Regions from separate parts of the Homo sapiens genome. Here region 1 is linked to region 2. The links come from fine-mapping of genetic effects on gene expression. A gene starts in region 2. The other region holds a variant in brackets. All regions are shown on one strand. Distances are from middle to middle.

Region 1 (5,370 bases), 46 kb before region 2:
TATTACCCAATACAATTTGAATTGACTGAAGGAATCTGGTCGTCTCCTCTTCACGCTCCTCAGATTCTGCCCAGTCTGGGTTTCTGCCTCTCCCTTTTCCCTTTCTGTCCAGTCAGCTTCTTCTGGGCCTGCTCAGGGCATAGAACATCATTGTCCACCAAGAACCATTCCATTCTTGAGACTCAAGAGGCCCAAGGATGCAGCAGGTGGGACTTCAGAGAATCCCTGCCCTTTCCCGGCAGGCGCTGGCAGCCTGGCCTCCCACTCCAGCCGCCTGGGGAGCCCTGCTCCCCCCTCCCCTTGGCCTCGCTCCCTCTTCGGCCAACGCCATCAGATTCTGCAGGGGTAACGAGAGCCTCCTGTAGATGGGTGGGCAGCCCTGTGCCTCCCAGGGACAGAGCTGGGCACAGGCTTGGATGGGGTCATGTGCAAACTCACGCAACCTTGGTAGCCAGTTCTGTCCTTTCCAGGGAGACCCCTAGGGTGCCACGGAGGAGGGGGCTGGGAAGCAGTGTGCAGATTCCACCCCAAGTGAAATCACCCCTCTGGGGTCCCTGTCCTAGATGGGTTGTCCACTGATGATGACAGGACAGAGCAGGGTGTCCTGCTGCTCATCAGTTCTGGGCAGTGGCCAGGGCGCCTGCTGGCTCCAGTAGGAAGGCACCAGCAATCTGTCCTGCCCAGGCCCACCCGGGCACACTGCCCACATCCAGCCAGCCCTGGAGTCAGCCCCGAAGCAGCAGCCCATGACCAAGAGAGAGGGACAGTGAGCGGGCAGGGTCAGGGCTGAGGGCCTCCAGAGGCAGGAAGGGATGGCCAGCCGCGTAGGCCACACACAGACCTGTCCCGGGTGAGCTGCACCTCCGCCCTCTACAGCCACCTAGGGTGCTGGGATATGGAATAAAAGACATATGGTTCTTTTACTTTTAAATGATAACTAATTACGCTGAGCAAAGATTTTTCCTTTGTGTTCCAAAACAAATAAAAATCCATTTCCCTCACTTGAATTGTCCTCCTGGCAGATGGCTGTGGGAGCAGGGAGCTCTCTCTGGGCCAGTCATGGGGGTAGGGGAAGGGGGCACCCAGCCCCCTGCTGGGTCACAGAGCCATGGGCATGCTCAGTCTGGCAGCCTCTGGGAAACAGCACCCAGACACACGTCCTGACTGCCACCCCCATGCCGTGGACACAGGCAGCTCTTCTGTCACATGCTGTGCGTCTGTCCCCTGGCCCTGGGGGCTGGTAACCGGTGGTTAGACACTGACCAGCCCCAAGAGTACCAGTGCACAGGAATGTGTAATAATGTGTTGTGGTCCTTAGGGTCTCAAAATAAACGGCCAGGCACAATGGCTCACACCTGTAATCCTGGCACTTTAGGAAGCCGAGGTGGAGGATCGCTTGAGCCCAGGAGTTCAAGACCAGCCTGGGCAACATAGGGAGATCCCTGTCTCTACAGAAAAATTAGCCAGGGGCAGTGGCATACACCTGTAATCCCAGCTACTCAGGAGGCTGAGGTAGGGGGATTGCTTGAGCCCAGGAGGTAAAGGATGCAGTGTGCCAAGATCATACCACTGCATCCCTGGGTGACAGAGCCTGGGCAACAGAGCAAGACCCTATCTCACCGGGTGTGGTGGCTCACTCCTGTAATCTCAACACGATGGGAGGCCAAGGCAGGCAGATCACTTGAGGTCAGGAGTTCAAGACCAGCCCGACCAACATGGTGAAACCCCATCTCTATTAAAAGTACAAAAAATTAGCCAGGCACGGTGGTGCACACCTGTAATCTCAGCTACTCCAGAGGCTGAGGCATGAGAATTGCTTGAACCTGGGAGGTGGACGTTGCAGTGAGCTGAGATCACGCCACTGCACTCCAGCCTGTGTGACAGAACAAGACTCTGTCTTAAAAAAAAAAAAGGGGGGGGAGTACTTATGACAAGTAACTCAGCTTAGAGTGAAGTTGCTGAGCCCTCAGAGTGATTAGCATAGGTGTGGTGGACTGCAATGATCAGATGATATCTGCTGTGGCCAGGCATCCCTGAGACCCAACAAGAAAGTGATGTCAAAAGGCACCTGAAGATGATGGCCAGGGACACTCCTGCGGAGGGCCATAAATACAAAGAAGCTGCTCATGACCAAGACACCTGCAGAAGCACTGCCCTCGAGAACTCCGAAGCCTCTTTTCCATTGGAGGCCACCAGACGCCCTGCTGGGAGAAGAGGAGTGATCCCATCCCTCCACCCGGGGGTCTGCGGTCCCTCTGCTCTGAAGGAACTTGGACCCTGGGCAATCAGCAGCTGGTCTCCCCATCCCCCGACACTGTGGTTCGCTCCCGCCTCTCTTATGACTGCCTGGGTGTGTGGAATATATTTGCATGAT[T/G]GTTGGGGTGTGAAAACGTCCCAATAAACCATGAATTTGTAAGCATTTAATTGGCTGCTGAGTCATCCTGAAACCTCCCCACATCAGTTAGTGCCACCAGGCTGATTCGAACCTAAGCCAGACACAGCCGTCTCCATGCCTCCCCAGGGTGGCCCTCCTGCTGCTCCCCCCTTCTCCAGATGAAGGAACAGAGGCCCAAAGGGCCTCAGTCACCAGCGCCAGTCTGGGAAACTGGTGGAGCTGGGATTGGAACCCTGTCTGATGTGCTACCCAGGGCAACCAGCACAGGGCTCCGGAGAAGGAGAATGGTGTGAGGTGACAGCAGGGGGAGCCAGCCAGGCCTGTGGGATGGACAGGGCCTGACCCAGGAGGAGCTGCCCCTGCTGCATTTGCAGGTTAGGCTGCAAGCGCAGGGCAGCGAGGTGGGGTGGGGGAAATCAGGCCAGGGTCCAAGGGGCCCGTGCTGCATTCTAGCCCCTGCAAAACTGCCCACAAGCCTCACCACCAATGAGTGGCGTAGGCAGAGGGCCTCCCACCTGCTGGGCCCTGTGACACCATCTGGGGGCCTCTGAGGCCCTGCTCTCCACTTCCCAGATGAGATACAGGTGTGGGGCTGAGGACAGGGCACAGCTGGAAGCCGCCCAGGCCTCCTGCCTGCAAGTTGGCCCTTCCTGTCCGTGTGGCCCGGGCACATACAGTCATGCGTCCATTCGCGACGGGGATACCTCCTGAGAAATGCATCTTAGGCGATTTCGTCGTTGTGCAAACCCCAGAGTGACTTACACAGACCAGGATGGCACAGCCCACTACACACCCAGGCTCCGTGGTACAGCCTATTGCTCCCGGGATCCCAACCTGCACAGTGTGTGACTGCACTGAATATACTGGAGGCAACTGTAACACAACGGTAAGGATTTCTACAGCTAAACATAGAAAAAGCACAGTGACAATATCATATTATGAATCTCAGGGGACCACTATGTGGTGCATGACGCTGTCTTTTTTCCCAGCACACCCTCCTAACACTCTCAGAATCTCCAAAGTGGTAAGTGTCTTCTGTGTGCTGATGGACTTCTGGACAGCCTGGCTGGGGGCTGGTTGTCAGGGGAACCAACCATGTGATGAAAGGGTGGGGACTTTCACTCCCACCCCCAGCTCTAGGGACAAGAGAGAGGCTGAAGGTTGGGTCCATCACCAATGGCCAATGATTCAGTCAGTCACACCCACATAATGAAGCCTCCACAAAATCCCAAAAGGAGCGGCTTCAGAGCTTCTGCGTAGGCAAGCAGGTGGAGGGCCCTGGAGTGCAGTGCCTGGGAGGACAGGGAAGCTCCACGCCCCTTCTCACATGCCTTGCCCTGAGCATCCCTTCCTCTTACTGTTCATCTGTGACCACTGTAAAAACCTGCATAGTAAGTGGGTAAATGGAAGCAAGTGCTTCCCTGAATTATGTGAGCTGCTCTAGCAAATTAATTGAATCTGAGAAAGGAGTCCCAGGAGTGGTGATTTGCTGGGTGGGTCAGAAGCACAGGCCACAACCTGAGACTTGCAAATGGCATCTGAAGTCGAGGGAGGGGGACAGCCTTGTGGGACCAAGCTCTCAACCTGTGAGATCTGACTTCGCCTCCAATATTGTCCAAATTGAATTACAGGGCACCCAGCTGCTGTCTTAATGTTAGAGAATCTGGTATTAGAATGTTGTGCTAAATGGCTGAGAGTGGAGAGTAAGAAAAACACTTTATTGGTTTTTTTTTTATAACCCTATTAGAGGTAAACTCCCAAGAACACAAAGCTATGCCCAGGAAACACAGTGAGCACCTCTTCATGCTAGATTCACAACCAGAAATTGCCCAGCAAGTGGTAGATGCCCAAGGGATGAAAATATTGCAGTGCATGCTCTCTGGACAGGGGACCAAGATATGTGAAAAACTGTGTCTAGAAACAGAAAGGCACATTCTACTGTCCAGAGTCTCTGCCACATGGTCGTATGTTATACCACCAATGAAACCCAGTAAAGTCCCCAAATAGAAGTGTGCAGGTGAGAGAATGACATAAGCACAATGTACTATAGTTGGATATTAATATATAACTGATAAACAAAATACCCACTTCATAAAAAAAATCCCTAAATCACACCTGTGTTAAAGATTCAAATTCCAATTACAGATGTCAGAAAAATAACCTTTATAGGAAAACTCTGTATCGAATTTGATATGGCCAAAGCTGTACTCACAGAAAAGTTCATAGACTTCAATAATGTATTGAAGTAAACACTAAGCACTTGATTCAAAAAGCTTAAAAAAGAGCTTCTCAACAAAACAGTGAAACAAACTGGAAGAAGAAACTACTAAAAAGCAAATTAGATGACTTAATCAAAGAATAGAGTAGAACTCCTTATAAACTTCAAGAGCTGATTCTTTGAAAACACAGATTTCAAGGATAACCCTCTTGCAATTCTAATCAACAAAAGGAAAGAAGAAAGGGAGGGAGGGCCAGGCACCCTGGATCATGCCTGTAATCCCAGCACTTTGGGGGGCTCTAGTGAGAACCTGTCTCTATTTCTTTAAAAAAATTATAAAAATTTATTTTAAAAAAGAAAGGGAGGGAGAGAAGAAGGAAGAAAGGAAGGACATGAAAAATACATTGGGCATGAAAAAAGGGAATCTAACTCCAGATATGTAGAAGAAAGTTTAAAACAAACAACTACCTAAATCTGTGGTAAATGATCTGCAAGAACTTTTAATGGTTACTTATATTATCTAGAAAATATAAGTAACCAAAAATAGAGTAAAACTGTTTAGAACCCAAAAAGACCAATAACCATAGTACAAATTAAGTTGAGAGCCAACTAAGCCTCTGGAAAAAATAAAAGAAAGCCCTGGCTGAAATAGTTTCTAAAATGAATTATTTCAAGCCTTTGAGGATAAGATAATTTTATATGATATATAAACTATTTCAACTACACAATTCATATTGAAAAGCCTTCCTATTCATTT
Region 2 (5,370 bases):
GAGTCTCCTCCCCATCTGCTATCTGCTATGCCCCTGGCACCTACCCCCAGCAGCCCAGCGCCCCTCCCCTGGGGTGGGCCATGCAGAGAAGAGCATCCCTCCACCAGCCCCTCTCCTGAGGACAGTGGGGGGGCCAAACCCCCTGCCCCCATCCCTGCCTTGGCACAGCACCTTCACTTGACCTATTTGACAAATAGGGCTTCTGTGAAACCCACGGTTCTATTGCCAAAAACCAAAGGCCAACCAAAGCTGTCCCATCCTGCCCCTGGCATCATTCTACAGGTGGGGACCGGCGTGCTCAGGGGCTCCTGGCCACACTGTGTCCCAGTGCCCACTCGCTCTCCTCCCTGGCTGGCCCCTCCCACCGCTGGGGGCCACTGTGTGCGTGGCTCTCCCCACCGCAGCCACTGTCCAGCACAAATGCCATTTCTCCCTCCTCCTCCTCCTCCCCTGCCTGCAGTTGCTAAGTTACACCAAAAAACCCCTCTGCTCTGTGTGAACTGTTCCATTTCCACGATTTGCCAGGTGGAAGGGAGCCATCCGGCTGGCAGCTCGAAGATGCCTCCCAGAGAAAAACAAACTCACTGGCTGGCCTTCAGGCCAAGGCACACCTGGGATACCTGCTTGGTTCACAAACCCAGGGGCATGTGCAGGAGGACACAGCTTCTCTACTTCACTAGAGAGCCTGGGGGATCCACACAGCTCATGCCCTTCTCAGGAGCAGGGAGTGTGGGCCTGCTGCACCCGCCTCGCTGGGTCACTACCACCCACAGCCCTAAGGACACACACTGGCTGGAGGGGCAGAGAACCCACCCACGTGTCCCTGGCCATCCAGCCAAGGTCCTCCATGTCCCCCTGCTCCGGATCTCCCCTTCCTGGGCTGGGGTCCTGAGGTTCCAAAGCAAAGTGTCACTGGACATCAGGGTGGAAATGTCCTCAGAGGTCATCAAAACCGTGTCAGTCTACAGATGGGGAAACTGAGTCTCAGAAGCCTGCAGCCTGCCCGTGGTTCACGAATCAAGACCTGTAGCCTTTCGGCTGGAGGCCCCCTAGAGCCGCTTAGAGTCCAGGGCACCGAGGTGGACAGGCTGGGCTGGCAAGACTGCATCCGGAGGGGGCGGGAGAACCCTGGGGGGACAGAGGGAACCAAGGCCTCTGGGAGGCTCCCCTGCACCCAGCCTGACTCCTGTGTTTCAGGATCCTGCGGCCGACGGCCATCGGGGCCCTTCCTGCGCAGGACAGTGGGAGAAGAGTGGCAGTGGTGGGGAGGGTGAACCAGGGAGAAGCTCACTGCTCTGAGCAGGGAGGGAGGGAGCCCCGGCCACCACCAGGTCTCTGCCCCCAGGTGGCTCCCAAGAGGCAGGCAGCGGCCTCTCTGTAAATATCCACCAGGTCCAGCACCCAGAGGCAGCCAGAAATGCAGGGCACAGGAACCTGCCAGCGCGTCCCTCCACACACAGCAGGGGACTCCCGCCCCCACCTCTCACTCACCGACCCTCGGACCAGAACCAGCTGCACCTGCCCCGTTCCTGGGGCCGGCAAGGCCTGGGGCAAAGAGAGCGTGGTCCTTCAAATGACCCTTGCCCAGCAGGGAGAGGGAGACACCTGGCATGGCCCTGGACCTCTCCCCCAAATGCAGAGCTCAAGCCCCAATTCCTCGCCAAACAGCAAGGGCGTGAGATACCACGGCGGGGCCCAGAATGCAGAAGAGCAAATGGAAACTTCCAACTGCGCAGCCCTGAGCTCCTCCGATTCCCCAGCCCCCACCCCCACGCCAGGCCCCGGGCAGCGAACCTGCCCGCAGTGCCCACGCCCGCCCGCCGCGTGCGCTCCTGCCACGCCCGGCCCGGCCCGGCCCGGCCCGCCAGGTGCCCTGAAGGGGCGGAGGGTGCAGGGGGTCCTGGCGCCGTCCAGCCCGGGGCGGAGTTCTCAGCAACTCCGCGCGCCGGGATCCCGGCCGCCCTCCCCGCGCGCGTCCCCCGCCCCGCGCCCGGAGCCCGCGCCCCGGCCCCACGACGGCCGCGCCGGGAGGGACCCCGGGCCCGCGCACGCCGCGCCCTGCCCGCGCCGGCGACCGGAGGGCACGGCCCCAGGCGCGGGCGGGGGCCCCGAGGCACTGAGGGTCCGCGGCCGCTGCCTACCTCGGTCCGGGCCAGCGTCGCTCCCGCGCCGCCCTCGCGCCGCAGTCGGGCCCCGAGCAGCGCGCGGCCGGCGCCGGCGGCGGCTCATGCTCGGCGCCCGGGCCCGCGGCACCCGCCCACCCGCGGCCGCCCCCGCGCTGCGCCAGCTGCGGGCAGAGCAGCTCCCTCCGCAGCCGGCGCCGGGGAGCGCGAGCGAGCGAGCGAACGAGCGAGCGCGGAGCGAGCGCCGAGCGGGCACGGAGCGGGCGCGAGAGCGCGGGGAGCGGGGGAGCGGGCGGGCGCGGGACGCGGAGGGAGGAGGGTGCGGGGCAAAGGTGCAGGGGGAGGTAGGGCGCGGGACGGGGCTCGAGCAGAGGGCACTGGGACAGGGCGGGCGCCGGGAGAGGGCGGCCAGGCTTTCATTTAAAAAGGATAAGGCATCACGCCTGTAATCCCAGCACTTTGGGAGGCCGAGACGGGCGGATCACGAGGTCAGGAGATCGAGACCATCCCGGCTAACACGGTGAAACCCCATCTCTACTAAAAATACAAAAAAAAAAATTAGCCGGGCGTGGTGGCGGGCGCCTGTAGTCCCAGCTACTCGGGAGGCTGAGGGAGGAGAATGGTGTAAACTCGGGAGGTGGAGCTTGCAGTGAGCCGAGATCGCGCCACTGCACTCCAGCCTGGGTAACAGAGTGAGACTCCGTCTCAAAAAAAAAAAAAAAAAAAAAAAAAAAAGGATCAGGCAGCAGACAAGCTAGGAGGCGATGCGGCCACCGCATTTAAAAGGCCCTCTGGGGACTCCCGCAGAGCTGGCAAAATTTTTGTCAGTGGAATCAGACGGTGAAAGCCCTTCTGTGGGCAAGTCCTGGCCCCTTGGGTCACTCCCCTTAACCATCTTAATCGCCCTGTAAGGTCGGTGGTGGATTTGTTCCCATTGGACAGGTTAGTAAACTGATGCACAGGGAGTGCGGTTACCCTGCAGGGTCTCAGAGCCTATAAGTGGCAGAGCAAGGCTCCAAAGCCACCTTGAAAGATTTCAGAACCACTAAAGCAGGACACAGGTCTTCTGGCGTCCACTGGAACTTCCTGTCGCTCTGAAGGGTCACCTTCTCTTGAACGGACACCCTGTGGCCTGACCCCAGGGTGGCCCAGAGTGACTCTTGCAGGCAGTCAGACGAGGGCCAGTGAGAAACAGGTCTGGGGCGACGATGTCCCCAGGTGGAGGGGTCTGTGTGAAAAAATGGGGAGGAGCCCCACAGCACCCCTTGAAGAGGCTGAGGACCTTGCTTACTCACTTAGTCCTTGTGTCTTGAACACCTGTATGCCAGGTGTAAGATGGGGCACTGGGATTCGGCTGTGAATGTCTCTGTCTGGTTGGAGTTTGCATTCTTGTGGGAAGTAGGCAGTGAATAAAAATACACATAAATAGTTCATGTGTCAGATGCTGCAGATCCCACAGAGAGGCCCAGCAGGGAGAGGGAGCCAGCGAAGGGAGGGGGAGGGGAGCTTGTAGGGTGGGGGATTCTTTTTTATTTTTTAAGGGGAGGTGTCACTGTGTGGCCCAGGCTGGAGTGCAGTGGCTATTCACAGGTGCAATCACTATGCTCTACAGCCTGGAACTTCCTGACTCTAGTGAGCCTCCTGCCTCAGCCTCCTGAGTAGCTAGAACTGTAGTTTCTCACCACCACCCTTCCCTGCTGGGTTGGGGATTTTATTTTGGGTGATCAGGGAAATCTTGGCTGAAAGGATCATATCTGAGCTAAGACCTAACTGAGGCAAGCTATGCTGAATCCGAGGAATGAACATTTTCAGCAAAGAGAACAGTACATGCAAAGGCCCTGAGGTGGAGGATGCCTTAGAAGGAGGCCAAGTGGAGATGAGTGAGTGTGGTAGAGAGGAGCCTGCAGGAGCTGCCAGGTGGACCATATCGCGAAGAGCCTGGCCAGCCATCAGCCCTCTGTGGCTTTGACTCAGAGGGAGGTGGAGGGTTTTGCACAAAGTAATATGATCTTACTATTTTTTACAAACAATATTTTATTATGTAAGATTTTAAACGCTTATAATAGTAACGGCTAAAAAGGTATATACAATAAACTCAATGGCCCAACTTCAACAATTATCAATACATGGCCAATTCTGTTTCATCTGTATGCCCACCTACCACTCCCCATATTATTTATTTGTTTACTCATTTTAAGTAAACTTTTATAGCTTTTTTTTTTTTTTGAGACAGGGTCTCATTCTGTCCCCCAGGCTAGAGTGCAGTGGCACAATCATAGCTCATTGTAGCCTCGAACTCCTGGGCTCAAGCAATCCTCCCGCCTCAGCCTCCCAAGGATAATTTTTTGTAAGTATAACATGCATAGACAAAAATCATAAAGTTGTGCTCCATGAATTTTCAATAAGAATACACCCATTCAGTGAGAATATTAATAGCTCTCTGCACCTGGATTTTCACTGTAGAAAGGTTTTTAATGACAGGTTCATTTTCTTTAATATATAGGACCATGTAGATTATTTGCTTCTTCCTATGTAACTTTTGCAAATTGTGTTTTTTATGGATTTTGCCCATTTTCTCTAAATTTTCAGATTTTCTGACATCCTCATATTGTTGTTTATAACATCTTTTATATTATCCCGCAGATGTTTGTAGAATCTGTAGCTATGTCCCACTTGGATTCTGATATTGGGGACCTCTGTGTTTTTCACTCTCTTTTTTTGATCAGTCTTGTTAGGGTTTTGTCAGTTTTATAATTTTTTTTAAAGAAACAACTTTTGACTTTGTTCAGCTTTCTCTGTTGTACTTTCTATTTCATGAATCTCTGCTCTTAGTTTCATTGTGTTTGTAGCTCTCCTTTGGGGGAGTATTAACTGTCTTTCTCTCATTCCTTCCTTCTTCCTTTTTAGTTTCTGAAGTTGGAGGGTAGGTTCATTGGTTTTCAGCTTTCGTTCCTACTCTATGGACTTAAAGCTATATATCTGCTTGTTAAGCACTGCTTTACTCTCTCTCTCACAATTGGTGTTTTTTTCTCACTATCATTTTGCTCAAGAGACTTTTAAATTTCCATTTTGACTTCTCTTTTGGCCCATGACTTATTTGGAAGGACATTGCTTAGTTCCAAATATTAGGGGATTTTCTAGCTACCCTCCTGCTGCTGAGTTCCAATTTAATCACACATCAGGCAGAGATTTTCTGAAATCTGTTGATACATTCTTTATGGCCCAAAATATGTTCTGTTTTGATAAA

Evidence for each region.
Region 1: its variant is fine-mapped to the expression of RASGEF1A in blood mononuclear cells (TOPMed, PIP above 0.99).

What each region holds. Positions count from the first base shown.
Region 1 is chr10:43,218,885-43,224,254 of GRCh38, forward strand. All of the region lies in intron 1 of RASGEF1A (RasGEF domain family member 1A), which reads right to left. Among named protein-coding and RNA genes, the nearest start is that of RASGEF1A, 45 kb to the right of the region's middle. The variant T/G (reference allele first, on the strand shown) is at 2,375.
Region 2 is chr10:43,264,704-43,270,073 of GRCh38, forward strand. It overlaps RASGEF1A (RasGEF domain family member 1A), which reads right to left and starts at 2,362. Exons shown (of 13, transcript NM_145313.4): 1 at 2,142-2,362. RefSeq lists an enhancer at 992-1,867.